2 separate regions of the Homo sapiens genome follow, and region 1 is linked to region 2. Evidence: fine-mapped QTL for protein levels in blood plasma. A gene starts in region 2. The other region holds a variant in brackets. All regions are shown on one strand. Distances are between the middles of the regions. Region 1 holds the start of PLVAP (plasmalemma vesicle associated protein). Region 2 holds the start of BST2 (bone marrow stromal cell antigen 2).

What was found. PIP is the chance, under the fine-mapping model, that this variant and not a neighbour inherited with it causes the effect. Protein levels are from antibody-based Olink assays in UK Biobank. Linkage for the fine-mapping came from a reference panel and not from the study's own genotypes, which makes the PIPs less certain.
Region 1: its variant is fine-mapped to the plasma level of the BST2 protein (UK Biobank, PIP above 0.99).

What each region holds. Positions count from the first base shown.
Region 1 is chr19:17,369,110-17,384,123 of GRCh38, forward strand. PLVAP (plasmalemma vesicle associated protein) reads right to left here and starts at 8,233. Exons shown (of 6, transcript NM_031310.3): 1 at 7,811-8,233. The coding sequence starts at 8,179. It overlaps LOC105372298 (a long non-coding RNA gene), which reads right to left and starts at 10,663. Exons shown (of 3, transcript XR_936362.3): 1 at 10,571-10,663; 2 at 10,304-10,377; 3 at 9,681-9,721. RefSeq lists an enhancer at 10,051-10,939. The variant G/A (reference allele first, on the strand shown) is at 6,980.
Region 2 is chr19:17,399,206-17,414,219 of GRCh38, forward strand. BST2 (bone marrow stromal cell antigen 2) reads right to left here and starts at 6,425. Exons shown (of 5, transcript NM_004335.4): 1 at 6,086-6,425; 2 at 5,166-5,232; 3 at 4,924-4,984; 4 at 4,475-4,619; 5 at 3,734-4,121. The coding sequence starts at 6,370. The coding sequence ends at 4,490. BISPR (BST2 interferon stimulated positive regulator) reads left to right here and starts at 6,481. Exons shown (of 4, transcript NR_130766.1): 1 at 6,481-6,566; 2 at 6,872-7,091; 3 at 13,892-14,100. It also overlaps a transcript of MVB12A not described here. RefSeq lists a cis regulatory region at 1-335, a silencer at 3,912-4,080 and enhancers at 5,604-6,342, 6,327-6,386, 6,457-6,836, 7,027-7,086, 7,137-7,186 and 2 more.

The DNA of each region.
Region 1 (15,014 bases), 30 kb before region 2:
GCAAATTAATACAAATGCTAACACCATCTCATGAGGCAAACAACAGTCTTTAAAAAAAACCTTTTTTTGTTTTTTTTTTTGTTGTTGTTTTTGAGACAGGGTTTTTTGCTCTGTCACCCAGCCTGGAGTGCAGTGGCACGATCTCGGCTCACTGTAACCTCCGTCTCCCGGGTTCAAGTGATTCCCCAGCCTCAGCCTCTCGAGTAGCTGGGATTACAGGTGTGCACCACCATACCTGGCTAATTTTTGTATTTTTAGTAGAGACAGGGTTTCGCCATGTTGGCCAGGCTGGTCTCGAACTCCTAACCTCAAGTGATCTGCCCACCACCAGCCTGGCCAACATGGCGAAACCCCATCTTTGCTAAAAATACAAAAATTAGCCAGGCATGGAAGCGCATGCTTGTAGTCCCAGCTATTTGGGAGTCTGAGCCAGGAGACTCGCTTGAATCCGGGAGGCGGAGGTTGCAGTGAGATGAGATTGTGCCACCACACTCCAACCTGGGGAACAGAGTGAGACTCTATGTCCAAAAAAAAAAAAAAGAAAAATTAAAATTAAATTAAATAAGATATGCAAATGGCCAAAGAGCATATCAAAAGACATTCAAAATCGGCTGGGCGCGGTGGCTCACACCTATAATCCCAGCACTTTGGGAGGCCAAGACAGGTGGATCACCTGAGGTTGGGCATTCGAGACCAGCCTGGCCAACATGGTGAAACCCCATCTCTACTAAAAATACAAAAAAATTAGCCAGGCCTGGTGGCAGGTGCCTGTAATCCCAGCTACTTGGGAGGCTGAGGCAGAAGAATTGCTTGAACCCGGGAGATGGAGGTTGCAGTGAGCCACGATCACACCATTGCACTCCAGCCTGGGTGACAGAGCGAGAGTCTGTCTAAAAAAAAAAAAAAAAAAAAAAAAAGAAAGATATTCAAAATCATTAGCCATTACGGAAATGCAAATCAGGACCACAGTGAGATACCACTACACACCCACGAGGGTGGCTATTTTAAAAACCCATAAACCCCCAAAATGAACAGTAACAGGTGTTGATGAGGATGTGGGGAAATCAGAATTCTCAGACAGTACTAGTGAGAATGTACAATGTTGCAACGGCTTTGGGAAAGTCTGGCAGTTCCTCAAAATGTTAAACATAGTTACCACGTGACCCAGAAACTCTACTTCTCAGCATATACCCAGAGCAATGGAAACACATCCTCACATCAACTTGCCAGGAATGTCCACAGCCGCTCGATTCACAGTAGCCAAAGGTGGAAAGAACCCAAATGCCTGTCAGCAGATGAATTAACGCACAAAATGTGTTCCTTCCATACATAGAACATGATTCAGCCATAAAAAGGAAGGAAGCACTGATCCATGTTGCAGTGTGTGTGAACCCCAAAAACATGATGCCTAAGTGAGAGAAGCCGGACACAAAAGGCCACAGAATGTGAGATTCCACTGACATGAAATGCCCAGAACAGGCAAATCCATAGAGACAGGAAGCAGGTTGGTGGCTGTCAGGGATTGGGGGAGGGGAATGGGAAGTGACTGCTGATGGGGACGTGGGTTTTCTTTTGGGAAGGTGAAAATGTTCTAAAATAATGTTCTAAAATGGATCGTGGTGATCAATGTACAACTCTGTGAATTTACAAAAAAATCATCAAATTGGCTGGGCGCGGTGGCTCACGCCTGTAATCTCAGCACTTTGGGAGGCCGAGGCGGGCGGATCACGAGGTCAGGAGATCTAGACCATCCTGGCTAACACGGTGAAACCCCATCTCTACTAAAAATACAAAAAATTAGCCAGGCGTGGTGGCGGGCGCCTGTAGTCCCAGCTACTCGGGAGGCTGAGGCAGGAGAATGGCGTGAACCTGGGAGGCAGAGCTTGCAATGAGCTGAGATCGCGCCACTGCACTCCAGCCTGGGCGACAGAGCGAGACTCCATCTCAAAACAAACAAACAAACAAACAAAAACATCAAATTGTACACTTTAAATAGGTGGATTGTAAAATACATGAATTATATATCAATAAAGCTGTTTTTAAAAATTATTTATTATTATTATTATTATTGAGATGGAGTCTCGCTCTGTGGCCCAGGCTAGAGTGCAGCGGTGTGATCTCAGCTCACTGCAACCTCTACTTCCTGGGTTCAAGTGATTCTCATGCCTCAGCCTCCCAAGTAGCTGGGAATACAGGGGTGCACCACCATGACCAGCTAATTTTTGTATTTTAGTAGAGACGGGGTTGCACCATGTTAGCCAGGTGGTTTCGAACTCCTGACCTCAAGTGATCCACTGGCCTCAGTCTCCTGCCTTGACTTCCCAAAGTGCTGGAATTACAGACGTGAGCTGCCACGCCCGGCCAGCTATTTTTATTTTAATTTAATTTTATTTTTTTTGAGACATGGTCTCACTCTGCCACCCAGGCTGGAGTGTGGTGGTGTGATCACAGCTCACTGCAGCCTCAGCCTCCCCAGGCTCGGGCAATCCTCCCACCTCAGTCTCTCAAGTAGCTGGGATTACAGGCACGTGCCACCACTCCTGGCTAATTTTTTATAGAGATGGGGTCTCACCATGTTGCCCAGGCTGGTCTTAAACTGCTGAGCTCAAGCAATCCACCCACCTTGGCCTCCCAAAATGTTGGGATTACAGGTGTGAACCACCACGCCTGGCCAGCAAAGCTGTTTTTAAAGAAAGTGTTCACAATTTAACAAACTAAAGCCATGCCTTTCAAACTTTGGAAGAGAACCCTCTGCAGAAATATAATAAGACATGAAGAATCAGGAGAGTTTGTCTTTCTGCAACTCTCTGTCCTTCATCCTTTTGCAGTTGGCCCTGGGTGAATGTCCTGGGGGGACATGGGGAATGCCTTCTGTTCTCAAAAGCCTTAGTCATTAGGAGGCTGAGGTGGGAACACTGCTTGAGGCTGGGAGTTCGAGACCAGCCTCGGCAATGTAGTGACACCATGTCTCTAAAAAAAAAAAAAAAAAAAAAGGATGTGATTTTTAAGTTTCTTTTTTAATTTTTAGTTTATTTTTTATAGAGAAGAGGTGTCTTGGGAGGCTGAGGCAGGTGGATCACCTGAGATCAGGAGTTCCAGACCAGCCTGGCCAACATGGGGAAACCCCATCTCTACTAAAAATACAAAAAATTAGCTGGGTTTGGTGGCGGGTGCCTGTAATCCCAGCTACTCGGGAGGCTGAGGTAGGAGAATCACTTGAACCCGGGAGGCAGAGGTTGTAGGGAGCTGAGATTGCGCCACTGCAATCCAGCCTGGGCGACAGAGTGAAACTCTGTGTCAAAAATAGTAATAATAATAATAAAATAATTAAATAATGTTTTTATTTATTTATTTATTTATTTTTTGAGACGGAGTCTCGCTCTGTCGCCCAGGCTGGAGTGCAGTGGCGCAATCTCGGCTCACTGCAAGCTCCGCCTCCCGGGTTCATGCCATTCTCCTGCCTCAGCCTCCCGAGTAGCTGGGACTACAGGCGCCCACCACCACACCTGGCTAATTTTTCGTATTTTTAGTAGAGACGGGGTTTCACTGTGTTAGCCAGCATGGTCTCGATCTCCTGACCTAGTGATCCACCCACCTCGGCCTCCCGAAGTGTTGGGATTATAGGTGTGAGCCACTGCACCCGGCCAATAATTTTTTTTTAAATGAAAAGACAGGCCAGGTGCAGTGGCTCACACCTGTAATCCCAGCACTGGGAGGCCAAGGCGGGCGGATCACGAGGTCAGGAAATTGAGGCCATCCTGGTTAACATAGTGAAACCCCGTCTCTACTAAAAATACAAAAAAAAAATTAGCAGGGCATGTTGGCGGGCACCTGTAGACCCAGCTACTCGGGAGGCTAAGGCAGGGGAATTGCTTGAACCCAGGAGGCAGAGGTTGCAGTGAGTGGATACCGCGCCATTGCACCCCAGCCTTGGCGACAGAGCTAGACTCTGTCTCAAAAAAAAAAAAAAAAAAAAAAAAAAAAGAAAGAAAAGACACCAGTTAGCCAGGTTCAGGTCTGAGAGGGGAGGCAGGGCTCTAATCTGAGGATCTAAGGGGCAGGCAGGACCCTATTGGGAGGGTCTGAGGGAGGGGCACAGTTATGCCCTGGGGACTGAGGGGTGTTCCACCCCATCTTGGGGGGCTGAGGTGAGACCTACCATACTCTGGGCATCTGGGGAGACGGTGCTTTGCCCCGGGGTTTTGGCGGATAGAGACAGGGCCCTACCCCTGGGGCTCTGGGCGAGGGGTTGAGGTGGAGGTAGGGCCCCGCCATTAGGGGTCTGAGGTGAGGAGACTGAGTTCTGCCTTGAGCAGGACTGAGGGGGCTGAGCTTACCTTCCTGCCCAGTGCGGACGGCTGGGTGGTCTGAGGTCCTATGGGAGGTCTGTCTTTGCCACTGCCTGGGCCCTGGCCAGCCAGGTCACCTCCTTGGAAGACCCTGAAGCTGCCTCTTCAGCCTTCCCTCACCCCACCCTCCCATCTCTCACCCACCTCACCCTTAAGGAGAGAGCCCCACACCTGCTCCCCACAATGTCTCAGGGCAGGCGGGACACCCCCTGGATGAAGTTGTGTCTGAGAACACGGGGATAATTGTCTAGTGAGTTTGACACAAGCCGGGGTGCGAGAGTGGCGCGATGGTCTCCAGGAGACCCCAGATTTGCAGCTGTGACTTTGCCCAGAGAGCCCGCCTGTTTCTGCCACCTCAAGAAAGTCACCTCCCCTCTCATGCCTTCACTTTCCTGCCTGCAAAGGGTTTAAAACTTCTGCTGCCCAGGCGCAATGGCTCACTCCTGTAATCTCAACACTTTGGGAGGCCAAGGCAGGTGGATCACTTGAAGGCAGGAGTTTGAGACCAGCCTGGCCAACATGGTGAAACCCCATCTCTACTAAAAATACAAAACTTAGCCGGGCATGGTGGGGCGCACCTGCAATCCCAGCTACTCGGGAGGCTGAGGCAACAGAATCGCTTGAGCCTGGGAGGCAGTGGTTGCAGTGAGCCGAGACCTTCCACTGCACTCCAGCCTTGGCAACAGAGGGAGACCCTGTCTCAAACAAAACAAAATAAAACAAAACAGCCGGGAACGGTGGCTCACGCCTGTAATCCCAGCACTTTGGGAGGCCGAGGCGGGTGGATCACAGGGTCAGGAGATCCAGACCATCCTGGCTAACACAGTGAAACCCGGTCTCTACTAAAAATAGAAAAATTAGCCAGGCATGACGGCGGGCGCCTGTAGTCCCAGCTACTCAGGAGGTTGAGGCAGGAGAATGGTATGAACGCAGAAGGTGGGGCTTGCAGTGAGCCGAGACTGCGCCACTGCACTCCAGCCTGGGTGAAAGAGTGAGACTCCATCTCAAACAAAACAAAACAACAAAAGCTTCTCCCTACTTCCCGGGATTTGGCAATGAGTTAATATTTCTAAATTCAACACCCAGCATACAGCAAATATGGACTGTTTATACATGCTAGAATTGAACAGGAACAAAACACTGTGAACTTTTATTCAGTCCATCCTTTTTTTGTTTTTTTTTTTCCATTCAGGGTCTCACTCAGTCGCCCAGGCTGGAGTACAGTGGCACTATCTTGGCTCACTGCAGCCTTGACCTCCTGGGCTCAAGTGATCCTCCCACCTCAGCCTCCCAAGTAGCTGGGACTACTGGCATGTGCCACCATGCCTGACTAATTTTTGTATGTATGTATGTATGTATGTATGTATGTATTTATTTTTAGACAGAGTCTCCCTCTGTTGCCCAGGCTGGAGTGCAGTAGTGAGATCTCGGCTCACTGCAATCTCTGCCTCCCAGGTTCAAGTGATTCTCCTGCCTCAGCCTCCCGAGTAGCTGGGACTACAGGCACATACCACCATACCCGGCTAATAATTTTTGTATTTTTAGTACAGACGGGGTTTCACTAGGTTGGCCAGGCTGGTCTCAAATTTCTGACCTCAAGTGATCCACCCACCTTGGCCTCTCACAGTGCTGGGATTACAGGTGTTAGCCAGTATGCCTGGCCTAATTTTTGTACTTTTTGTACAGACAGGGTTTCACCATGTTGCCCAGGTTGGTCTCAAATTCCTGGACTCAGGTGGTCCTCCTGCCTCGGTCTCCCAAAGTGCTGGGATTACAGGTGTGAGCTACTGTAGCCGGTCTTCAGCCACTTATTTGCAGCTTGTGTGTGCTGGACCCCTTTGATTAGTGCTGGCACATTCTGGGAGCTTCATGCATAGTAAGTTATGGGCTCAGGACTGCCAATTAACACACAGGAGGAGAATTAAACTTGGATTCCAAAAAGACAATGAATATTATTTTCAAAATTATATCTCAAATATTGCATGGAATATACTTACAGTTTAAAAAAAATGTTGCTGGCTGGGAATGGTGGCTCATGCCTGTAATCTCAGCACTTTAGGAGGGTGAGCCTAGGAGTTCAAGACCAGCCTCAGCAGCATAGTGAGATTCTGTCTCTAAAAAAAAGTTAGCCAGGGCACCAGGTCAGGGCACGGTGGCTCATGCCTGTAATCCCAGCACTATGGGAGGCCGAGGTGGGTGGCTCACTTGAGGTCAGGAGTTTGAGACCAGCCTGGCAAACATGGTGAAACCCCGTCTCTACTAAAAATACAAAAATTAGCTGGCATGGTTGCACACGCCTGTAATCCCAGCTACTCAGGAGGCTGAGGCAGGAGAATCACTTGAACCTGGGAGGTGGAGGTTGCAGTGAGGCGAGATTGTGCCACTGCACTTCAGCCTGGGTGACAGAGCGAGACTCCGTCTCAAAAAAAAAAAAAAAAATTGCCAGGTGTGGTGGTGCCCACCTGTAATCTCAGCACTTTGGGAGGTCCAGGAGGGAGGATTGTTTGAGCCCAGGAGTTCAAGACCAGCCTGATCAACATAGCGAGACCCCACGTCTACTAAAAATAAAAAATGACCTGGGCATAGTGGCATGTCCATAGTGCCAGCTACTCAAAAGGCTGAGGCAGGAG[G/A]ATTGCTGGAGCCCAGGATGTCAAGGCTTCAGTGAGCTATGCTCACATCACTGTGCTCCAGCCTGGGTGACAGAGTGAGACCCTGCCTCCAAAAAAAAGAAAAGAAATAAAAAAAATTTAGCTGGACGCAGTGCCCCACACCTGTAATCCCAGCAGTTTGGGAGGCTGGGGTGAGAGGATTGCTTGAGCCCAGGAGTTCGAGACTAGCCTGGGCAACATAGTGAGACCTCATCTCTGCTAAATATAAACATATTAGCTGGGTGTGGTGGTGCACGCCTGTAGTCCCAGCTACTCAGGAGGCTGAGGCAAGAGGATCACTTGAGTCCAGGAGATTGAGGTTGCAGTGAGCTGTGATAGCAATTGCACTCCATCCAGCCCAGGATACACATGGAGACCCTGTCTCTTAAGGAAAAAAAAAAAATCTATCGGCCGGGTGCAGTGGCTCACGCTTGTAATCCCAACAATTTGGGAGGCCAAGGCAGGCGTATCACTTGAGGTCAGGAGTTTGAGACCAGCCTGGCCAACATGGTGAAACCCCATCTCTACTAAAAATACAAAAATGAGCCGGTTATGATGGCACATGCCTGTAATCCCAGCTACTCGGGAGGCTGAGGCAGGAGAATCACTCCAACCCAGGAGGCAGAGGTTGCAGTGAGCCGAGATTGCACCACTGCACTCCAGCCTGGGAGACGGAGCGAGACTCTGTCTCATAAGAAAAGAGAGCATTGGTCCTGTGATCGTCCCCCTCTCTTGGATGAGGAAACTCAGGCTCAGAGAGGTGAGGGGGCTTGCTCAGGGTCCCCAGGGCGAGTGTCCTGCCCACAGCCTTACCCGGTCACCCTGGCACTGGCGGAAGCTGGCATTGATGCGGTCCAGGTCGCGGCGAGCATTCAGCCACATCTGCATGATGGCATCCTTGGCGCGGGTGGTGAAGTTGAGCTCCTTGGTCAAGTTGGACTGGGAGGCCGTGAGCCCTAGGAGCTGACTGTATAGGCCCTCGGCTCGGCGCTCGGTGGCCTGCAGGTTGGACTCTGTGCTCACGTGCACGTTGCCATAGACCATGAAGAGCACGAGCCCCAGGATGATGAGGAATTGGATGAGGGAGACGAAGAGGAAGAAGTAGCGCAGGTAATACCAGCAGCCCCGAGAGCTGCCCCCCGCCCGAGCGTAGGACCCTCCGTGCTCCATGGCCAGACCCATTTGCTCGATCCCGCCGTCCGGTGCACCGTCCCTGCTCACCACCAGGCCTGCTCTGGCCCCCGCCTCGCAGGGGGGAGTGCTTATATTACTCCTCTTAATACTTCCTCTGCCTGGCTCCTTCCTGGCCCGGAGGAAACGGGGGCTGCGGGTTATCACAACACTCCCACTCTGGCTGTGAGAAGGCGGGGGTGGGGCTGGGGGCCCAGAGCCAGGGCACCGGCTGGACCCCTCTGATTAATGCTGGGTGGGGCGCTGGCTGGCTGGTCAGGCATTCCTGGCCTCTTCGAGCCTCGCGTTCGCCTTTACTTGCTGGCGGGTGCTGTTCTCAGTACCTGCTGTGATTAGGTCGCTGAATCATGCCAGGTCTGTTGCTGTCTCCCTTGTGTGGCGGAGGAAACTGAGGCACAGGGAGGAGAAGGGGTTGCCTCGGGGTCTCACGCTGTTAGTTCAGCGAACTTGACTTACCTCAAGACAGGCTGGCTACAGACGTGCACCCACTTCACCAGGGCGGTGCTGATTAAGTGCCACAAAACGTGGGAAATGTGCCAGGCACGGTGGCTCACGCCTATAATCCCAGCACTTTGGGAGGCTGAGGCGGACGGATCACCTGAGGTCAGAAGTTTGAGACCAACCCGGTCACCGTGGTGAAACCCCCCGTCTCTACTAAAAATACAAAACTTAGCCAGGTGTGGTGGTGCTCGCCTGTAATTCCAGCTACCCAGGAGGCTGAGGCAGGAGAATCGCTTGAACCCAGGAGTCGGAGGTTGCGGTGAGCAGAGATCGTGCCATTGCACTCCAGCCTGGGGTATAGAGCAAGACTCTGTTTCAAAAAAAAAAAAAAACAGAAAAAGTGTGAAACTCTTAGCTAGCCTAGGGATGGAGAAGCAGTAGGTGATTAGTAATTGCATAGGAGGGCGTCACGGAGGGCTGAGCCATGGATGGCGGTGGCGCTGGCTCCCCAAGCTCTGTCATTGCCCCCAGTGCCCTGTTCACTTAGATGCTCAGTAAATGCTCCAGGAAACTGCAGCACAAGGAATAATGAACTTGGAGCGGGGAAGAGCTGGCTTTGTCCCGGGAGAGCTCGGGCAAGAGGCCTCGCATGTCTGTGCCTCCCTTTTCCCCTTTGTGAGACGGGGTATACCCAGTGCCTCGTCACTCTGTGGCTGTTGTTATGATTAGGATCATTTCCTGCTGGAGGCACTGCTGGGGGCTCCGTGAGATGGTGAATGACAAGTGGTGGATACGTGGGACTGAGATTCCTCCCCCGACACTCAAAACCCCATGGGCGGCCGGGCATAGTGGCTCACACCTGTAATCTCAGCACTTTGTGAGGCTGAGGCAGGCGGATCACCTGAGGTCAGGAGTGCGAGACCAGCCTGGCCAATATGGTGAAACCCCATCTCCACTAAAAATACAAAAATTAGCCGTGTGTGGTGGCGAGCACCTGTAATCCCAGCTGCTTGGGAAGCTGAGGCAGGAGAACCACTTGAACCCGGGAGGCGGAGGTTGCAGTGAAGCGAGATCGGGCCACTGCACTCCATCCTGGGAGATAAGAGAGAAACTCTGTCTCAAAAACAAAAACAAACAAACCAAAAAAACCACGGGAGTTTTCTGGGGTCGCTGTGGGTCACCCCCCAGTTGGGCCTGGAGGGGATTTGGGGACCCGGAAGCAAAGGATTCTGTGTGTCCTGCCTATCTCCCAGGATCAGGAGCTCCAGGGAAACCCTCCCTGGAGTCCCTTCTTTGTTTGCTCCATGCTGGGTGATGCCAGGGCCCCCCAAGAGGTGTCAGTCCCAACCTCAGCCACAAGCAACTCCCAGTCTTGGGAGACAGACTGGGACAGGTACCCCCCACCCTGTGGAGTCAGGGTGGGCTGGAGGAACAGGAGCAGGGAGCCGGAAAGGAGGCTGGACTCCGGACAGGTGACAATCATGCAATTGCTGTCCTCTGTAGGGCAATGTGAAGGCTGGGGCGTGGGGACCCGTCCCCCCATTAGCCAGGGTAACAGAGTGGGGAGGGGTCGTTGACAGAGCGGAGGGGTACTCCAGGGTGGTGCTCAGTGAGGCGAGTGTAGAGTTGAGAAGAAGGAAGTTCCCAGGGGTGGGCAGGAAACCCATGTCTGACCTTTGACCTTTGCAGCTACCCGGTGGTTCCTGATCCTGATTCCGGACCCTTCCCAGCGGCGTCGTCGGCGGCTGCTAGTGGGGGAAGGAGGGCTGGGGGCTGCCACGGGTGCCCAACCAGCCATTTCTCTGGGTTGGCCAGACCCACCCAGAGCCCCCCAGAGCTGGGCAGGAGGAGAACATCCTCCGTAATGGGGGCAATGTAGTCTGAGTGAACCCAGCATTACAGTTTAGAGTTCTGGAGTTGAGTTCTGACTGTGCCACCTACCAGCTTTGTGGCCTTGGAGAAGTGACTTTCCCTCCCTGGGCCTCAGTTTTCTCCTGTCCGAAGTGGAGATAGCCAGGTGCAGTGGCTCACACCTGTAATCCCAGCAGTTAGGGAGGCAGAGGTGGGAGAATCGTTGGAGCCCACAAGTTCAAGACCCTGTTCTAAAAAAAAAAAAACCCAAAAAACAAAAACAAAACAAAAATCAAGTGAAGACAACATAGCCAGTTTTTTTTGTTTTTTTTTTTTGTTTTTTTTTTTTTTTTTTGAGATGGAGTCTGGCACTGTTCCCCAGGCTGGAGTGCAGTGGCACTATCTTGGCTCACCACAGCCTCTGCCTCCTGGGTTCAAGGGATTCTCCTGCCTCAGCCTCCTGAGTAGCTGGGACTACAGGCACGCGCCAGCATGCCTGGCTAATTTTTTGTATTTTTAGTAGAGACAGGGTTTCACCAGGCTGGTCTCAAACTCCTGACCTCGTGATCCGCCTGCGTCGGCCTCCCAAAGTGCTCGGATTACAGGCGTGAGCTACCTCACCTGGCCAACAACATAGCCAGTTTTGAAGTACTTGACGTCATGCCTGGAACATACTCAGTCTTAATAAATGATGGCCTTTTTTTTTTGAGACAGAGTCTTGCTCTATTGCTCAGGATGGAGTGCAGTGGTGCGATCTCGGCTCACTGCAACCTCTGCCTCCAGAGTTCAAGCAATTCTCCTGCCTCAGCCTCCCAAGTAGCTGGGATTACAGATGTGCAGCACTACTGCTCAGCTAATTTTTGTATTTTTAGTAGAGACGGGGTTCCACCATGTTGACCAGGCTGGTCACAAACTCCTGACCTCAGGTGATCCACCTGCCTTGGACTCCCAAAGTGCTGAGATTACAGAATGAACCACCGCACCGGGCAATGATGGCATTTTTTAAGATGTGAGGGCTGGATCATGCCTGGCCTCTGATGTCAGGCTGAGGAACTCAGACATAGGGGAGGGGCAGTATTCCCAGCTGCCGGTGCCCCAGGCCTGTGAGAGCACTGGGGAAAGGAGAGCATGATGGGGATGAAGTGTGGGTGACCAGGGTCCAGCAGAGGAGCTGAGGCTGGGTGCAGTGTCTGGGCCAATGCCAGTAGATGTGGGTCTTGGTGTACACTTAAGATCTTGGCTGTTCTTCATTGTATATAGAAGATGTTGCATCTATGTATGTATGAATGTGATACCAGTTGACAAGGAAAAATAAAGGCAACCTCAAACTCCCAGAAAACAAAAAGCCCCCCGGACCTGATGGTACTGATGTGCCACAATTTTGAACAGTTGTCACCATGTGAGAAGCAGAGTTTTAAATATACATACCAATGTTATTTGTATCAAGCCCAAAAACAATATTTGGTGTCCTTTTCTAATTTGATCTCACACCTTTAATTTGTAATGTTTCTGTTTTGGATCATTTGTTATATTAGCTGATTTAACTTTGTAACTTTTTGTTTGTTTGTTTTGAGGCAGAGTTTTCTCTTGTCGTCCAGGCTGGCATGCAATGGCATGATCTTGGCTCACTGCAACCTCCACCTCTGGGTTCAAGTGATTCTCCTGCCTCAGCCTCCTGAGTAGCTGGGATTACAGGTGCACACCACCATGCCTAGCTAATTTTTTTTTTTTTTTTGGTATTTTTTAGTACAGATGGGCTTTCGCCATGTTGGCCAGGCTGGTGTCGAACTCCTGACCACAGGTGATCCACCCACCTCATCCTCCCAAATTGCTGGGATTACAGGCGTGAGCCACCACGCCAGGCCTGATTTTTTTTTTTTTTTTTTTTTTTTTTTTTTTTTTTTTTTTTTTAGCAAAAAGGGTAGGCTGGGGGTCGTGGCTCACACCTGTAATCCCAGCACTTTGGGAGGTCGAGGCGGGTAGATCACGAGGTCAGGAGTTCGAGACCAGCCTGGCCAATATGGTGAAACCCCATCTCTACTAAAAATACAAAAATTAGCTAGATATGGTGGCGGATGCCAGTACTCCCAGCTACACGGGAGGCTGAGGCAGAAGAATTGCTTGAACCTGGGAGGTGGAGGTTGCAGTGAGCCCAGATCGTGCCACTGCACTCTAGCCTGGGCTACAGAGTGAGACTCCATCTCAAAAAAAAAAAAAAAAAAAAAGGTAAAGATAGACCTTCCTCTTTTTGCACAGTATTATGTCTTTGAGATTCATTGACTCCTATGGCTGGCTGTTTAGGTTTTCACCAGATACAGTACCATAAAATTATGAATGGACACTTAGATTTTTTCTGAGTTAGTTTTTCAATAAATAAAAGAAGATTTAAAATCAAATTTCCTGGCTGGGTGCGGTGGCTCACATCTGTAATCCAAAGCACTTTGGAAAGCCAAGGCAGGCGGATCACTTGAGTCCAGGAGTTTGAGACCAGCCTGGGCAACATGTTGAAATCCCATCTCTTCAAAAAATACAAAAATTAGCCGGGTGTGGTAGTCCCAGCTACTTGGGAGGCTGAGGCAGAGAATTGCTTGAATCCAGGAGGCACAGGTTGCAGTGAGCCGAGATCACACCACTGCACTCCAGCCTGGGTGACAGAGTGAGACCCGGTCTCAAAAAAAAAAAAAAAAAAAAAAAGAAAGAAAGAAAGAAAGAAAGAAAGAAAGAAAATCAAATTTCCAGAAATGAATGAAATTACTGGGTCTCAAAGTGGGCACATTTTTACATTTTGATAGTTGTCACCAATTTGTCCTTCAAAGAGGTTGTTTTCATTGACATCTTTGCCTGCGATGTCTGAAATCTCCAAACATGGACTTTATGAAAATGTTCTGTTTGTGTCCTTGGCCAGAAAAATCTGGAGGGAGAATGTGAGTGCCTGATCAAGAATCTACATGAAGTCAAATGCATCAGCCCTGATGTGAGTGTTGGGTTTTTTCCTGAAAACAATTTGTCATGTTCACAGGAAATTTTGCACATGAATCCCTTCAAATTCCCTTGGAGGGGCATCAGAAAATCAGGCTTGCTTTTTAAACCCTTTTGTTTTTCTAAACAGAAAACAATTGATTTGGTTTCATTTGTTTGTTTGAGTGGAGAAGGAAAAACTGTCATGAGGAAGTCAACTCTGTGTCACTCCCTGAAAACTGACACTGAAGTCCTCATGGAGACACGAGTTAAAAAAAAACAAAATCACTCAGAACTTCAGGAAGGTCCTTGAGGAAGTGATATTTCTGGTGAAGAAGGATTTCAGTGAAGTTCAGAAAACCTTCCACTATTTTGTTTTTTTTTTTTTGAGACGGAGTGTTGCGCTGTTGCCCAGGCTGGAGTGCAGTGGCACGATCTTGGCTCACTGCAAGCTCCGCCTCCTTCCGGGTTCATGCCATTCTCCTGCTTCAGCCTCTAGAGTAGCTGGGGACTACAGGCTAATTTTTTGTGCCTTTAGTAGAGATGGGGTTTCACCGTGTTAGCCAGGATGGTCTCGATCTCCTGACCTCGTGATCCACCCACCTCGGCCTCCCAAAGTGCTAGGATTACAGGCGTGAGCCCCTGCGCCTGGCTTTTTTTTTTCTTTTTCTTTTTTTGTTTTTTTTGAGACGGAGTCTCGCTCTGTCGCCCAGGCTGGAGTGCAGTGGCGCCATTTCGGCTCACTGCAACCTCTGTCTCCCAGGTTAGAGCAATTCTGGCTCAGCCTCCTAAGTAGATGGGACTACAGGTACACACTACCACCCCCGGCTAATTGTTATATTTTTAATAGAGACTGGGTTTCACCATATTGGACAGACTGGTCTTGAACTCCTGACCTCAAGTGATCCTCCTAACTCAGCCTCCCAAAATGCTGGGATTACAGGCATTAGCCACTGCACCGGGCCAACCCTCCACTTTTATGTCTGTGAGTTTGGTTTTTGGTTAATCGAAGTGAAGTTAAGTTTTGTGCTTTTGGAGGTGACGGAGGCAGCGAAGAGAGTCCCTCTGTGGGGTGGGGGAAACCTGTGCTCTCTGGGACTCTGTGTTCCCTGCTGAAAAACAGGGACCTAGGCTGGGCGTGGTGGCTCACGCCTGTAATCCCAGCACTTTGGGAGGCTGAGGCAGGCAGATCACCTGAGGCCAGGAGTTTGAGACCACCCTGACCAACATGGAGAAACCCCGTCTCTACTAAAAATACAAAACTAGCCAAGTGTCCTGGCGCATGCCTGTAATCCCAGCACTGGGGAGGCTGAGGCAGAAGAATCGCTTAAACCCGGGAGGTGGAGGTTGCAGTGAGCTGAGACTGCGCCATTGCACTCCAGCCTGGGCAACAACAGTGAAACTCGGTGTCATAAATAAATAAATAAATAAAAAGAAAAACAGGGACCTACTTCCTTGCCTGTGACTGGAGGGCTGGAAAGGTCAGGTTGCAACTAGCCCATGTCCCCTCCTGCCAAGGCCACTGTGGGCTTTCCATTTTTGTCCCCTACCCCTGTCCCTCCAGCTATGGGAGGGG
Region 2 (15,014 bases):
GGGGATTGGGAGTTGAATCCACAATATTGGGCTAATCTTATCAGCAAAATACAGCCCAGGCAGGATGGGGGTGGGGGTTGTGGGGGGAGAGTGGGGGAGGGAGTGTGAGTAGGGGTGGGGGTGGGTGGAGCAGCAGCATAGTCTGGGGACCTTTCCATGGCCCAAGTCGGGAGTGGTGAGTGGAGGAGGTCACGTGGGGAGCGTTTGTTTCCTGGGCAAAAGGAAATCCACAGAATGTGGAGGGTTAATTGCCCAACGAGCTTTGAAACCCTGAACAAGGCCAGGCATGGTGGCTCACGCCTGTAATCCCAGCACTTTGGGAGGCTGAGGCGGGCGGATCACGAGGTCAGGAGATCAAGACCATCCTGGCTAACACGGTGACACCCCGTCTCTACTAAAAATACAAAAAAAATTAGCCCAGCGTGGTGGTGGGCGCCTGTAGTCCCAGCTACTTGGGAGGCTGAGGCAGGAGAATCACTTGAATCCAGGAGGTGGAGGTTGCAATGAGCTGAGATCGCACCATTGCACTCCAGCCTGGGCAACAGAGCAAGACTCCATCTCAAAAAACAAACAAACCAACCACAAAAAAAACAAAAACCCCTGAAAAAGTCCAGTAATTACCCTAGGCCTCACCGGGGCTGTTGGTGAGGATGAAATAGCTTAGTAGTTGCAAAGCGGCTTTGGCTTTTTTGCAAGCCAGGGCCACAGAAGTGAAGGCCCACCCTGCTCCCGGGGACACTTAGCAACATATAGAGACTTTTTTTTTCTTTTGAGACAGAGTCTGGCTCTGTTGCCCAGGCTGGAGTTGCATCATCTTGGCTCACTGCAGCCTTGACATCCCAGGCTCAAGCGATCCTCCTGCCTCAGCCTCCCAAGTAGCTGCGACTACAGGCGTGTGCCACCATGCCCAGCTAATTATTAAATTTTTTGTAGAGATGGAGGTCTCCCTATGTTGCCCAGGCTGGTCTTGACCTCCTGGGCTGAAGCAATCCTCCCCCTTCGACCTCCCAAAGTGCTGGGATTACAGGCATGAGCCACCATGCCCAGCCTGGAAACATTTTTAATTGTCACAACTTGGGAGGGTGTTACTTGCATTTATGGGTGGGGGCCAGGGATGCCGTTTAATATCCTACAATGCAGCTGGGCGCCGTGTCTCATGTCTGTAATTCCAGCACTTTGGGAGGCCGAGGCGGGTGGATTTCTTCAGGTCAGGAGTTCAAGACCAGCCTGAACAACATGGTGAAACACCGTTTCTACTAAAAATACAAAAATTAGCCGGACATGATGGCGGGTGCCTGTAATCCCAGCTACTCGGGAGGCTGAGGCAGGATAATCACTTGAACCCGGGAGACGGAGTTTGCAGTGAGCTGAAATCGCACCACTGCACTCCAGCCTGGGAGACAGAGTGAGACTCCATCTCAAAAAAACAAACAAAAAAAACCCAAAACAAAAAACAAAATCCTACAATGCACAGGATGGTCCCCACCCAGAGAACCATCCAGCCCAAACCACCAATGCTGCTGAGGCTGAGACCCTGCCCTAGACCTTGGGAGTGAGGAACGGGTGCTCCAGGCAGCAGGCAGAGCTTGGGCAAAGGCCTTGAGGCAAAAAGGAACTTGGGATCAGTAAAGGTGGAGGTGGTGAGCAAGGGGAAGTGAGGGGGCAAGAGGGCCAGGGGGTCTGTGGCAGGGGAGGTATTTGGGGACCCTTCCCTGGGACAGCAGTAGGAACCATGGAAGTGGAGGCCTGGTTTTATTTATTTATTTATTTTTGAGACAGACTCTTGCTCTGTCGCCCAGGCTAGAGTGCAGTAGCGTGATCTCAGCTCACTGCAACCTCCACCTCCTGGGTTCAAGCGATTTTCCTGCCTCAGCCTCCTGTGTAGCTGGGACTATAGGCACGACCCACCACCCCCCGCTAATTTTTTTTATTTTGAGACAGAGTCTCGCTCTATTGCCCAGGCAGGAGTGCAGTGGCGGGATCTCGGCTCACTGCAACATCCGCCTCTCGGGTTCAAGCGATTCTCGTGCCTCAGCCTCCTGAGTAACTGGGACTACAGGTGCATGCCACCACGCCAGGCTAATTTTTTGTATTTTTAGTAGAGACAGGGTTTCACCGTGTTCGCCAGGATGGTCTGGATCTCTTGACCTTGTGATCCAACAACCTTGGCCTCCCAAAGTGCTGGGATTACAGGCATGAACCACCACGCCCAGCCATTTTTTTGTATTTTTAGTAGAGATGGGGTTCACCATGTTGGCCAGGTTGGTCTTGAACTGAGCTCAAGTGATCCACCTGCCTCGGCCTCCCAAAGTTCTGGGATTACAGGCGTGAGCCACTGTGCCTGGCCAGAGGGTTTTTTTTTTTTTTAAATCCCACTGACCGTCTGGGCTGGGGACTGTGGGACCTTAGGATAGTACAGAAATCTGGGACAAGGGACTCCTGGCTCCATTACCACAAACAGGAGTTGGAGTTGCAGAGACAATGGCCGGGATTCCGGGAGAACTTGGAGGAAGTAAGATAACAGAGAAGGAAGGGACTATGGCATCTTTGAGGATCGAATAAGGTAGGTGAAGGGTCCGTCGGGATTGCAGCCCTCAATTGTGGAGAAGCAGAGAGACTCTCTGGGGGAGGGGTTCCCAGAGCTGGGTACTGCAGAATGAATAAGAGTTTGGGGAATCGGGCCAGGTGTGATGGCTCATGCCTGTAATCCCAGCACTTTAGGAGCCCAAGGTGGGTAGATCCCTTGAGGTCAGGAGTTTGAGGCCAGCCTGGCCAACATGATGAAACCCCTGTCTCCACTAAAAATACAAAAATTAGCCAGGTGTGGTGGTGTAGTACTGTAATCCCAGCTACTCGGGAGGCTGAGGCAGGAGAATCACTTGAACCTGGAAGGCAGAAGTTGCAGTGAGCCAAGATCGTGCCACTCTACTCCAGCCTGGGCGACAGAGCAAAACTCTGTCTCAAAAAAAAAAAAAAAAAAGAGCCGGGGGTGGTGGCTCATGCCTGTAATCCCAGCACTTTGGGAGGCCAAGGCAGGCAGATCACCTGGGGTCGAGAGTTCGAGACTAGCCTGACCAACATGGAGAAACCCCGTCTTTACTAAAAATACAAAATTAGCCGGGCATGGTGGCGCAAGCCTGTAGTCCCAGCTACTTGGGAGGCTGAGGCAGGAGAATCGCTTGAACCCGGGAGGCGGAGGTTGCGGTGAGCCGAGACTGCGCCATCGCACTCCAGCCTGGGAAACAAGAGCGAAACTCCGTCTCAAAAAAAAAAAAAAAAAAAAAAAAAAGAGAGAGAGAGAGAGAATCTGGGGGATGAAGCAGGGGGAAACATTCTGACAATGCATGGCCTGTGTGTGTGTACAGATCCCAGTTTAAATCCCAGCCCAGCATTTTCTGCAGGCGGGAAGGGAAGCAAGACAAGGTTACTCTCAGTTACAGCCTCAGTTTCCTCACTGGATCCCCAGGAATCAGGAGAGGCTCTAGGGAGGAGATGAGAATACAACACCTGGGAAACGGTGAGCCCTGATGAGGGTGCATAGTTCTTATGTTGATCCCAGCAGAGACAAGGGCTGGGAAGAACTGGGGTGGTGCCTCCCCGAACTCCGTGGGCTCCTGAAAACGTCCTGGAGCAGGGAAGGGAGGTGTCATCGTCAACGGGGTGTCCACTCTCACCTGCAGGGGCGGCCCCAACGCTTGGGTACTAAAACGATGATACTCCAGGAACTCGAGAGTCAGGTGTGCTCTCCCTCAAAGGAAGTGTTTATTTTTTGGAGCTCAAAGACCCCAGAAAAAAGCAACCCCCCCCGCAAAAAAAACCCATAACAACAGGCAGCACATGCCCCCCACACCGCACCCCATGCCCAATCTCAGGGTGGGAGACAAGAGGGGGGACTCATTGTCCGGAGGGAGGCTCTGGAGGGAGACAGCCCTGGGTCAACCCGACTGTGTCCCCACACCCAGGACTTCCCCATGGCCCCTCCAGACCTGCTCCAGAGGCCCTTCTCCGGCTACCCCGTGCTCTCCCCGCTAACCGTGTTGCCCCATGACCCGCTCAGAACTGATGAGATCAAGGGAATGTTCAAGCGAAAAGCCGAGCAGGACGGACCTTCCAAGATGTGCCTAAAGGACCAGAAGAGGGACTCAGGGCAGACTGGAGGCAGCAGACACTGGCCCCGCTCCAAGCCCGGCCCCAAGCCCCGCCCCCATCGCTAGACCCGCCCCACCCATCCATAAGCCCCTCCCCTCCATCGATAGACCCGCCCCCATTGATAGCCCCGCCCCATACAGCTATCAGCCCGTCCCCGATCCAGGGCATCCTTCTCACTGGATTCTCCCTCCTTCCCCAAGGCCCCTCACCTCTGCGCCCAGTCCCTTCCCCTGCAGCCTCTCTCTCTAGACTTCGGAGCCTCTGCTTCCCCGCCCCGCTTCCCCAGCTTTCTTCTCCCTCCCGGGGCCGCCCCCTCCTCACTGACCAGCTTCCTGGGATCTCACTGCAGCAGAGCGCTGAGGCCCAGCAGCACAATCAGCAGCTGGGGCGCCGCAGCGGAGCTGGAGTCCTGGGAGCTGGGGTAGTACTTCTTGTCCGCGATTCTCACGCTTAAGACCTGGTTTTCTCTTCTGCGGTACAGATGGCAAATCAGGCATCTGCTCGTCCTGGCTCCTGCCGCCCTCCCTGTAAGCCCACCGCCCCCGGGAGTTCCCCCCGCACCGCCCCAATCCAAGTCACCGGGGAGGGAATGGACAGCGGCCACCCATGGCTCTGTGACCCTAGGGGCTAAGTTATCCTTTTGTGGGACTCAAACTTTATCCCTTGGGGCAATGGGGATTTTGGGAGCAAAGGAGATCCTGGGTCTTGGGCTAGGGATGTGGGGGTGAGAGGAATGTGGCAGGTGGAGGGTAGCGGGGGAAGGCTATCTCTGACCTCAGTCGCTCCACCTCTGCAGACGCGTCCTGAAGCTTATGGTTTAATGTAGTGATCTCTCCTGGTAGGGTGGGAGGACAGAAACAGGGGGCGGGTCAGCATGTGGCCATGCTGGGGCCCTGCTCCACTCTGGGACAGAACCTCCCCCTTACCCCAACCTCCAGCCCTGGTCTCCCTGCCCCCACCCCCTCTTCCATACCTGACTCACCCCTCCCCGGCCCTCTCCCTTCTCCCTTTCTCACCCTCAAGCTCCTCCACTTTCTTTTGTCCTTGGGCCTTCTCTGCATCCAGGGAAGCCATTAGGGCCATCTAAGAAGAGTTAGAATCTGGGGTTTTGGCCTGGGGAGTTTGGCTGCTGCCCCTGGGACCTGGGCCTCCTCCCTAGGTCCTGGGGACAGAGGGGCTTAAATGCAAACCCCTTTCAGGTTTTCTTCCAACCCTCTCTGCACCATGGTCTCCAACCTTAAAGAACAGCCACAACCACACACTCTCCCAGGGCCACCCATAAGCATGTGGGTCCTCAAAATGGGAGTTTTGAGGCCACCCCACGTGGAAACTTGGAGGCTATCGATAACCAAAGTTTAGTGGACATTTCCAGATTGCCTGAGCAATGGCCCAAGAAAAGTTAGAGGGCCCTACCAAATCCAGAATGCAGTGGGATTTCCCCGCCCAAGTGACATGCCCAGCGAGAGTTTCAAGATCCCCCATATCAGGACCCAGGTGAATATTTCAGTTTCTTAGGGATGAAGTGAAAATTTCAAAAGCCCCCTTTTTCAGGGTCTGGTGAGGTCCCCCTTCAACCCTGAATAGGGATTTCTACTCCCCCAGGACTGGTGCCCACGAGGAGTTTCAAGGCCCCCGACACCAGTGCCCTGGAAAGAATTTATAAATTCACCTAAGTCCCAGGGGGATACTGAGGTCCCCGATTTGGGGGATCTGGAGAGTTTTAACACCCTGCCCCTACACCAGTGCCCTGGACTGGGTTAGGGGCCCACAAACCCTGGTAGGGGAACCTAGGTCCCTTGATGTGGGGGCCCAGGAGCAGTTTCAGGACCTCCCCTGCATCTCCCTGGAGACCCACCCTGGGTCAGATTTCTGGGGAGAGATTCTTGTCCCTCCCACCGCCTAGTACTAGGCCATCCAAAGGAGTTGAGGAGCTTACCACAGTGTGGTTGCAGGTGGCGGCCTGGGCCTCCACATCCTGAAAGCCCTTCTGGGCCTCGGTCAGCTCTTGTTGCAGGAGATGGGTGACATTGCGACACTCCATCACTGCCCGAAGGCCGTCCCGGCAGGCCTCGCTGTTGGCCTTGATGGTGAAGATAATCAAGGGCACCCCCAGAATCACGATGATCAGGAGCACCAGAATTCCTATCCCCAGCAGAAGCTTACAGCGCTTATCCCCGTCTTCCATGGGCACTCTGCAATAGTCATACGAAGTAGATGCCATCCAGATCTCCCCTTTAGAGTCTGGCCTGGAGTTAGGGGAGGGTGCTGGAATCTTCTACGGGCCACCCCTTTATTAGCATAGGAAACGTCCTGACCAATAGCAAGTTCCAGGAAGTGCTCTGACCAGCAGCTCTTGCATGAGGCACCTACAGGCAGAGGATTAATTAGGTTTTCAGTTTCAGTTTCCCAGAAAGGAGGTGGGCTTTTTTTTCACCCTGCTTTAAAAGCCCTTGGGCCCTTCCCAGCTGGGTGCCAGCCAACTGTGGCTGCCTGGGACACTCCATCTTAAGTCCCTGTGCCTCTGCTGTGTGTTACTGAGTGCCTAGGCCGTGCCAGCCTGTATTCATCTGTACTATGACCTGAAGAGGCAGAGGCCATCACTGTTGGTCCGGTCTCCACCTGGGGAAACTGAGGTTGCACAGTTGCGTGGTGGAGTGAGGGCAGGGCCTGGGTCTGGGGGCGGGGCCTGGGTCTGACCCCAGGGACTGGTTTTTGTGTTCAGGTGTCTCTGTGGTGACGAGCAGGGCTTCATCCAGTGCCTCTGTCCCCACCGAGGGGACTATGGGAGACATGGAGGGTGTGTGAGCAACAGGTGAGACTGGAGCCAGCTGAAAACTGGGAGACCGACCCAGCCAACAAACAATGTCGGTCTCTGTCTTGGCACCTGCAGGAAACAAGCTCCTACTTCCAGAAAAAGTGCTCCTGGGACTCCAGGATACCAGGTAAACTCTCTGAGCCTGTTTCTTCATCTGCAAAGGGGAATAACAGGGCCAGCCTCAGACACTGTCCATGTGGCCAAGAGAGCCAGGGCTTCCTACAGGAAATCAGGCCCATTATCGGCACCCAACTGCTGGGCATGACCGCTGAAAGGGGACTGCATGTTTTTCTTGTGGCTTCTTCAGCCACATCCTGACCACAGCCCAGATTCTGTTAGGTCTGCCATTTCCATGTTTTTTTTTCTTTTCAGCAGGGCCAGACAGTAGGCGAGGTCAAGTCCAGAGCCCAGGCCTCCCAGAAGGCCTGGGGAACTCCCCCCAGGCCCTGACTCCAACATCCCTCAGAAGGACCCCATTAAAGCCACTTAGAGCCAGGCATGGTGGTACATGCCTGTGGTCCCAGGCTGAGGCTGGGAGGCTGAGGCAGGAGGATCACTCGAGCCCAGGAGTTTGAGGCTGCAGCGAGCTATGATTGTGCCACGGCACTCAAGCCTGGGTGATAGAGTGGGATCCCATCTCTTAAACCAATAAACAAAAAAATCACTTAGAACCAAGAACCAATTAACAAGCTGTGGGAGATGATCTTGCTGAAAATTCTGAGGGTGAACTTGTCCCAGGAGGAGGGACCTACCAGCCTGGCCAGGACTCCAGGTGCAAAGACACGACCTTTGCCTGACTTATTTGACTAAGCTGACTTATTTGAGCAGCACTGTTCTGGCCTGCTAACTTTAGGGTTAGTTTGGGACCAGGTCGGAAATCACAATTGCATGAATTGCACATTGGAGGCCAGGGTGGTGCACCTCTGGGCAAATGAATTTCCTCTCTTAGCATTGATTTCCCCAGCTGTAAAATGTGGATAATAATAGATTGATGTCCTCTCTAAATTTTGCAGCTGTAAACAGTCCCAGCCCTGCAAACCGAAAGTTTGTTGCTCTTCCCTTTAAAATTACTGTAGGGACCAGCCCCACAGGGTCAGTGGGTCTCTCCCTGTGTGCGGCGACGAGAGAGTGTAGAAATAAAGACACAAGACGAAGAGATAAAAGAAAAGACAGCTGGGCCCGGGGGACCACTACCAGCAATGCGCGGAGACTGGTAGTGGCCCCGAATGTCTGGCTGTGCTGTTATTTATTGGATACAAAGCAAAAGGGGCAGGGTAAAGAGTGTGAGTCATCTCCAATGATAGGTAAGGTCACGTGGGTCACGTGTCCACTGGACAGGGGGCCCTTCCCTGCCTGGCAGCCGAGGCAGAGAGAGAGAGAGGGGACAGACAGAAAGACAGCTTATGCCATTATTTCTGCATATCAGAGACTTTTAGTACTTTCACTAAATGACTACTGCTATCTAGAAGGCAGAGCCAGGTGTACAGGATGGAACATGAAGGCGGACTAGGAGCGTGACCACTGAAGCACAGCATCACAGGGAGACGGTTAGGCTGCCAGATAACCGCGGGCGAGCCTGACTGATGTCAGGCCCTCCACAAGAGGTGGAGGAGCAGAGTCTTCTCCAAACTCCCCCAGGGAAAAGGAGCCTCCCTTTCCCGGTCTGCTAAGTAGTGGGTGTTGTTCCTTGACACTTTTCGCTACCGCTAGACCACTGTCCGCTCGGGCAACGGGCGTCTTCCCAGACGCTGGCGTCACCGCTAGACCAAGGAGCCCTTCTGCTGGCCCTGTCCGGGCATAACAGAAGGCTTGCACTCTTGTCTTCTGGTCACACCTCACTATGTCCCCTCAGCTCCTATCTCTGTATGGCCTGGTTTTTCCTAGGTTATGATTGTAGACCGAGGATTATTATACTATTGGGATAAAGAGTAATTACTACAAACTAATGATTAATGATATTCATATATCTCTAAGATCTATATTTGGTATAACTATTCTTGTTTTATATTTTATTATACTGGAACAGCTCGTGTCCTCAGTCTCTTGCCTTGGCACCTGGGTGGCTTGCCGCCCACAATTACAAATGGTGGGATGGGTGCAGTGGCTCATGCCTGCAATCCTAGTACTTTGGGAGGCTGAGATGGGAAGATTGCTTGAGGCCAGTAGTTCGAGACCAGCCTGGTCAACATAGAGAGATCCTATCCCTATTTAAAAATAAATATATATATATATTTTAAGTACATATATTTATTTTATTTTGTTTTAATTAATTAATTAATTAATTAATTTTTTTTGAGATGGAGTCTCGCTCTTGTTGCCCAGGCTGGAGTGCAGTGGCACGATCTTGGCTCACTGCAACCTCTGCCTCCGGAGTTCAAGCGATTCCCCTGCCTCAGCCTCCTGAGTAGCTGGGATTACAGGCGCCCACCGCCATGCCTGGCTTATTTTTGTACTTTTAGTAGAGACAGGGTTTTGCCATGTTGACCAGGCTGGTCTTGAACTCCTGACCTCAGGTGATCTGTCTGACTCAGCCTCCCAAAGTGCTGGGATTACAGGCGTGAGCCACTGCACCTGGCCTATATTTTATTTTATATTTTTAAATATATAATGTATTTTTATATATTGGTTGGTGCAAAAGTAATTGCGGTTTCTGCCATTACTTTTTTTTTTTTTTTTTTGAGAGGGAATCTCTCTCTGTCGCCCAGGCTGGAGTGCAGTGGTACGATCTCGATCACTACAACCTCTGCCTCCTGGGTTGAAGCGATTCTCCTGCCTCAGCCTCCTGAGTAGCTGGGACTACAGATGCCTGCCACCATGCCTGGCTACTTTTTGCATTTTTAGTAGAGATGGGGTTTCGCCATGTTGGCCAGGCTGGTCTCAAACTTCTGACCTCAGGTGATCCACCCAACTTGGACTCACCAAGTACTGGGATTACAAGCGTGAGCCACCGTGCCCGGCCTATATTTTATTTTATATTTTTAAATATATTCTCCCTCTGTCACCCAGGCTGGAGTGCAGTGGTGTAATCTCGGCTCACTGCAACCTCTGCCTCCTGGGTTGAAGTGATTCTTCTGCCTCAGCCTCCTGAGTAGCTGGGACTACAGATGCCTGCCACCATGCCCAGCTACTTTTTGTATTTTTAGGAGAGACGGGGTTTCGACATGTTGGCCAGGCTGGTCTCGAACTCCCGACCTCAAGGGATCCACCCGACTTGGCCTCCCAAAGTGCTGGGATTACAGGCATGAGCCACCGCTCCCAGCCTCTGCCATTACTTTTTTTTTTTTTTTTTTTTTTTTGAGATGGAATTTCACTCTTGTTACCCAGGGTGGAGTGCAATGATGCAATCTTAGCTCACCACAACCTCTGCCTCCTGGGTTCAAACAATTCTCCTGCCTCAGCCTCCCTAGTAGCTGGGATTACAGGCATGCGCCACCATGCCCGGCTAATTTTGTATTTTTAGTAGAGAGGTTTAGGTTTCTCCATGTTGGCCAGGCTGGTCTCAAACTCCCGACCTCAGGTGATCTGCCCGCCTCGGCCTCCCAAATTGCTGGGGTTACAGGCTTGAGCCACCGCACCCAGCCTTTTTTTGTTTTTTTCTTTGAGATGGAGTCTCGGTCTGTCTCTCAGGCTGGGGTGCATTGGCACGATCTCGTCTCACTGCAACCTCTGACCTCCGCCTCCTGGGTTCAAGCAATCCTGCTGCCTCAGTCTCCTGAGTAGCTGGGATTACAGGTACCCGCCACCACGCCCAGCTAATTTTTGTATTTTTAGTAGAGACGGGGTTTCACCATGTTACCCAGGCTGGTCTCGAACTCCTGACCTCATGATCCGTCCATCTCGGCCTCCCAAAGTACTGCGATTACAGCCATGAGCCACCACGCCCGGCCTTCCATTACTTTTAATGGCATTAATTAATTATGCTTACTAAAAGTTATGGCAGAAACCACAATTACTTTCGCAATAAAATTAGAAATGGAAACTGTTATGCTACCATTCTTTTTCTTTTTTTATTTTCTTTTGAGACAGAATCTTGTCCTGTTGCCCAGGCTGGAGCGCAGTGGTGCAATCATAGCTCACTGCAGCCTTGACCTCCTGGGCTCAAGCAATCCTCTCACCTCAGCCTCTGGCGTAGCTGGGACTATATGTGTGCACCACCACGCCCAGCTAATTTTTTATTTTTTGTAGAGATGGGGGTCTCAGTATGTTTCCCAGGCTGGTCTCAAACTCCTAGGCTCCAAAGATCCTCCTGCCTCAGCCCCCGCAAAGTGTTGGAATTACAGGAGTAAGCCACTGCACCCAGCCGCTAGCATTCTTTTGGTTTTAGCTTCATATATATATATATATATATATATATATATATACACACACACATATATATATACACACACATATATATACATATATATACATATATATATACACACATATATATATACACATATATATATATAATTATTATTATTTTAGAGAAACATTTCAGTTGGGAGCAGTGGTTCATGCCTGTAATCCCAGCACTTTGGAGGCTGAGGCGGGTGGATGACCTGACGTCAGGAGTTCGAGACCAGCCTGGCCAACATGGTGAAACCCTGTCTCTACTAAAAATACAAAAACTAGCCAGGCGTAGTGGCAGGTGCCTGTAATCCCAGCTACTCAGAAGGCTGAGGCAGAAGAATCGCTTGAACCCAGAGGCAGAGGTTGCAGTGCAGTGAGATCGCGCCACTGCACTTCAGCCTGGGCGACAGAGTGAGACTCTGTCTCAAAAAAAAAAAAAAAGAAAAGAAACATTTTATTTTATTTTATTTTATTTATTTATTTTTGAGACAGAGTCTCACTCTGTCACCTAGGCTGGAGTGCAGTGGCGCGATCTCCACTCACTGCAACCTCCAACTCCCTGATTCAAGCAATTCTCCTGCCTCAGCCTCCCAAGTAGCTGGGATTACAGGCATGCGCCACTACGCCCAGCTAATTTTTGTATTTTAGTAGAGACAGGGTTTCACCATGTTGGCCAGGATGGTCTCGATCTCCTGACCTCGTGATCTGCCCACCTCAGCCTCCCAAAGTTCTGGGATTACAGGCGTGAGCCACCGTGCCCGGCCAACATTTTATTTTAGAATAGTTTTAGATTTGCAGAAAAAAAACAGTGAGGATAATAGAATTTCCCACATTCCCTACACCCAATTTCCCCTCTTTTATTTATTTATTAAAGACAGGCTCTTGTTCTGTCGCCCAGGCTGGAGTGCAGTGGTGTGATCATAGCTCACTGCAGCCTTTGACCTCCTGGGCTCAAGCGATCCTCCCACCTCAGCCTCCCGAGTAGCTGGGACCACAGATGCTCAGTACCACACCTGGCTAATTTTTTTACTTTTTTTGTAGAGATGGGGTCTCACTATGTTGACCAGGCTTTTCTCAAACTCCTGGGCTCAAGCGATCCTCCTGCCTCAGCCTCCTGAGTAGCTGGGACTACAGCCACTCACCACCATCACGCCCAGCTAAGTTTTGTATTGTTTGTAGAGACGGGATCTCTGTATGTTGCCCAGGCTGGTCTCAAACTCCTGGGCTCATGTCATCCTCCTTCCTCAGCCTCCCAAGGTGCTGGGATTATAGGTGTGAACCACTGCACCTGGCTAAGAAAAAAAAAATAGGAGCAAAGATCATCCGCAACCATCCCTCAGCTGTTTCATTTCTGTTTATTACACTACATGCATATTTCACTTACTTTGGGATACTGAGATGTGGCCCCGGATGGGCTTCTGAGGACAACTCCATGCCTGTAGGAAGTCGCTGGCCCCAGGGCGCTCAGCGGGTGGGGGCGATTCTGCTCCAGGGGACATTTTTATTGTCACCGCGGGGGCTGGGAGTGCCGCTGCCATCTAGGGATGTAGGCCAGGGATGCTGCTCAACACTACAGTGTACAGGACGGCCCCCCACAGTAAATGATCAAGCCCCAAGTGTCAGAGGTGCCACCAGACGTGACAAGCCCTGCCCTGGGGAGAACTGAGTGCAGGTTTGGAGTCAGACTTGGGCTCAAATTCCATCATGGCGAACCAGCTCCTTTCCCTCGGGCCTCTGCTTTTCTTTCTCTCTCTTTTGCTCTTTCTCTCTCTCTTTCTTTTTTGAGATGGAGTCTCACTCTGTTGCCCAGGCTGGAGTGCAGTAATGCAGTCTTGGCTCTCTGCAACCTCTGTCTCCCTGGTTCAAGTGATTGTCCTGCCTCAGCCTCCCAAGTAGGTGGGATCAAAGGTGTGTGCCACCACGCCCGGCTAATTTTTGTATTTTTAGTAGAGACGGGGTTTCACCATGTTGGCCAGGCTGGTCTCAAACTCCTGGCTTCAAGTGTTCCACCCGCCTCAGCCTCCCAAAGTGCTGGGATTACAGGTGTGAGCCACTGCCCCCAGCCAACCTCTGCTTTCTTATAGCGGGGGTGTGATAACAGCTGCTTCCCAGTCAATTGGAATGTCCACACAAATTAGAAACTGAAACAGTATCTCCATCAACTCAGAGAAAACAGTAAAAAGAAAATAGGCGGTGAGATTTCTCATCAGTTACATTATTCTGACTTTAATTAGTGTCCAGGGAAACTGAAACTATAGCTATACCTAAGATAAACATTTGAAGAAGGAGTAAAGGAAAGATTAATTTTGCAGCTGTCTCAGGGTCTGGTGGAGGGCTGATGGATGTCATCCTGTCTTTGTTTTGCACCGGGGAAAGTAAGCTTGTAATCAGTGCTGTCAGGATGAAATTCAGCAGACTGGTTCCGTGGACAAGGGGTCACATAGAGCTTGTAAACCTAAGGTTACGTATCTTTGTTTACGGGAGGCTGGACATCTTGGAAAGATTTAGGAGTAAGCAAAGAATTTACGTATGAACAATTTGTGAGGGTGATCATCTGGAGATGTGTGAGGGCTTTTTTTTTTTTTCTTTTTGTAGGCATCTGGGTAAGCTACAATGCTTAACCACTTAACACAATCAGGAAGCAACAGCCATGCATTCGGGAAAGGAACTTCAGTGTTGTGTGGCTCAGTCTCCAGACCTAACTTTCCCTTTGGTACAGACGCGGTGGTACATGCCTGTAATCCCAACACTTAGGCAGGAGGATCACTCGAGCCCAGAAGATCAAGACTAGTGTGAGCAACAAAGTGAGTTTCCCCCCACCCCTCACCTCAACAAAACATTTAAAAATTAGCTGGACATGGTGGCTGCGCCTGTGGTGGCTGGAGTGCAGTGGTGTGATCTTGGCTCACTGCAGCCTCTGCATTCAAGCAATTCTCCTGCCTCAGCCTCCTGAGTAGCTGGGATTACAGGCACCTGCCACCACGCCTGGCTAATTTTTGTATTTTTAGTAGAGACCGGGTTTCACCATGTTGGCCAGGCTGGTCTCCAACTCCTGACCTCAGGTGATCTGCCACTCAGGAGGCTGGGTAGGAGGATCCCTTGAGCCCAAGGGGTAGGAGGGTCCCTTGAGCCCAAGAGATCAAGGATGCAGTGAGCCATGTTCGCATGACTGCACACCTGCCTGGACAACAGATGAGACCATGTCTCAAAAACAAACAAACCAATACAAACAACAACAACTTTTCCTTTGGCAAACTGCCTTTGGAAGGTCCTCATATTTTTATTTTCTTTGACAGGAAAAAGCAATATATAGAAAGTGCTTAGCTTAGCACTTTGTACATTACAGTTCCCCATCATAGTTTGCCCTTGTCATTTGATAAGTTTTGGACTTGACTGCAGGCTTTCCTTAAACTGAACTCCCAGAAGTGGGGTTACTGGGTCCAAGGGGATGCCTATGTCCCAAGCTCTCACTTCCCATAAAGAAGAATTCAGAATTCGGCCAGGAGTGGTGGCTCACACCTGTAATCCCAGCACTTTGGGAGGCTGAGGTGGGTGGATCACCTGAGGTCAGGACTTCGAGAACAGCCTGGACAAAATGGTGAAACCCTGTCTCTACTGAAAATACAAAAATTAGATGGGCTTGGTGGTGGGCACCTGTAATCTCAGCTACTTGGAAGGCTGAGGCAGGAGAATTGCTTGAACCCGGGAGGCGGAGGTC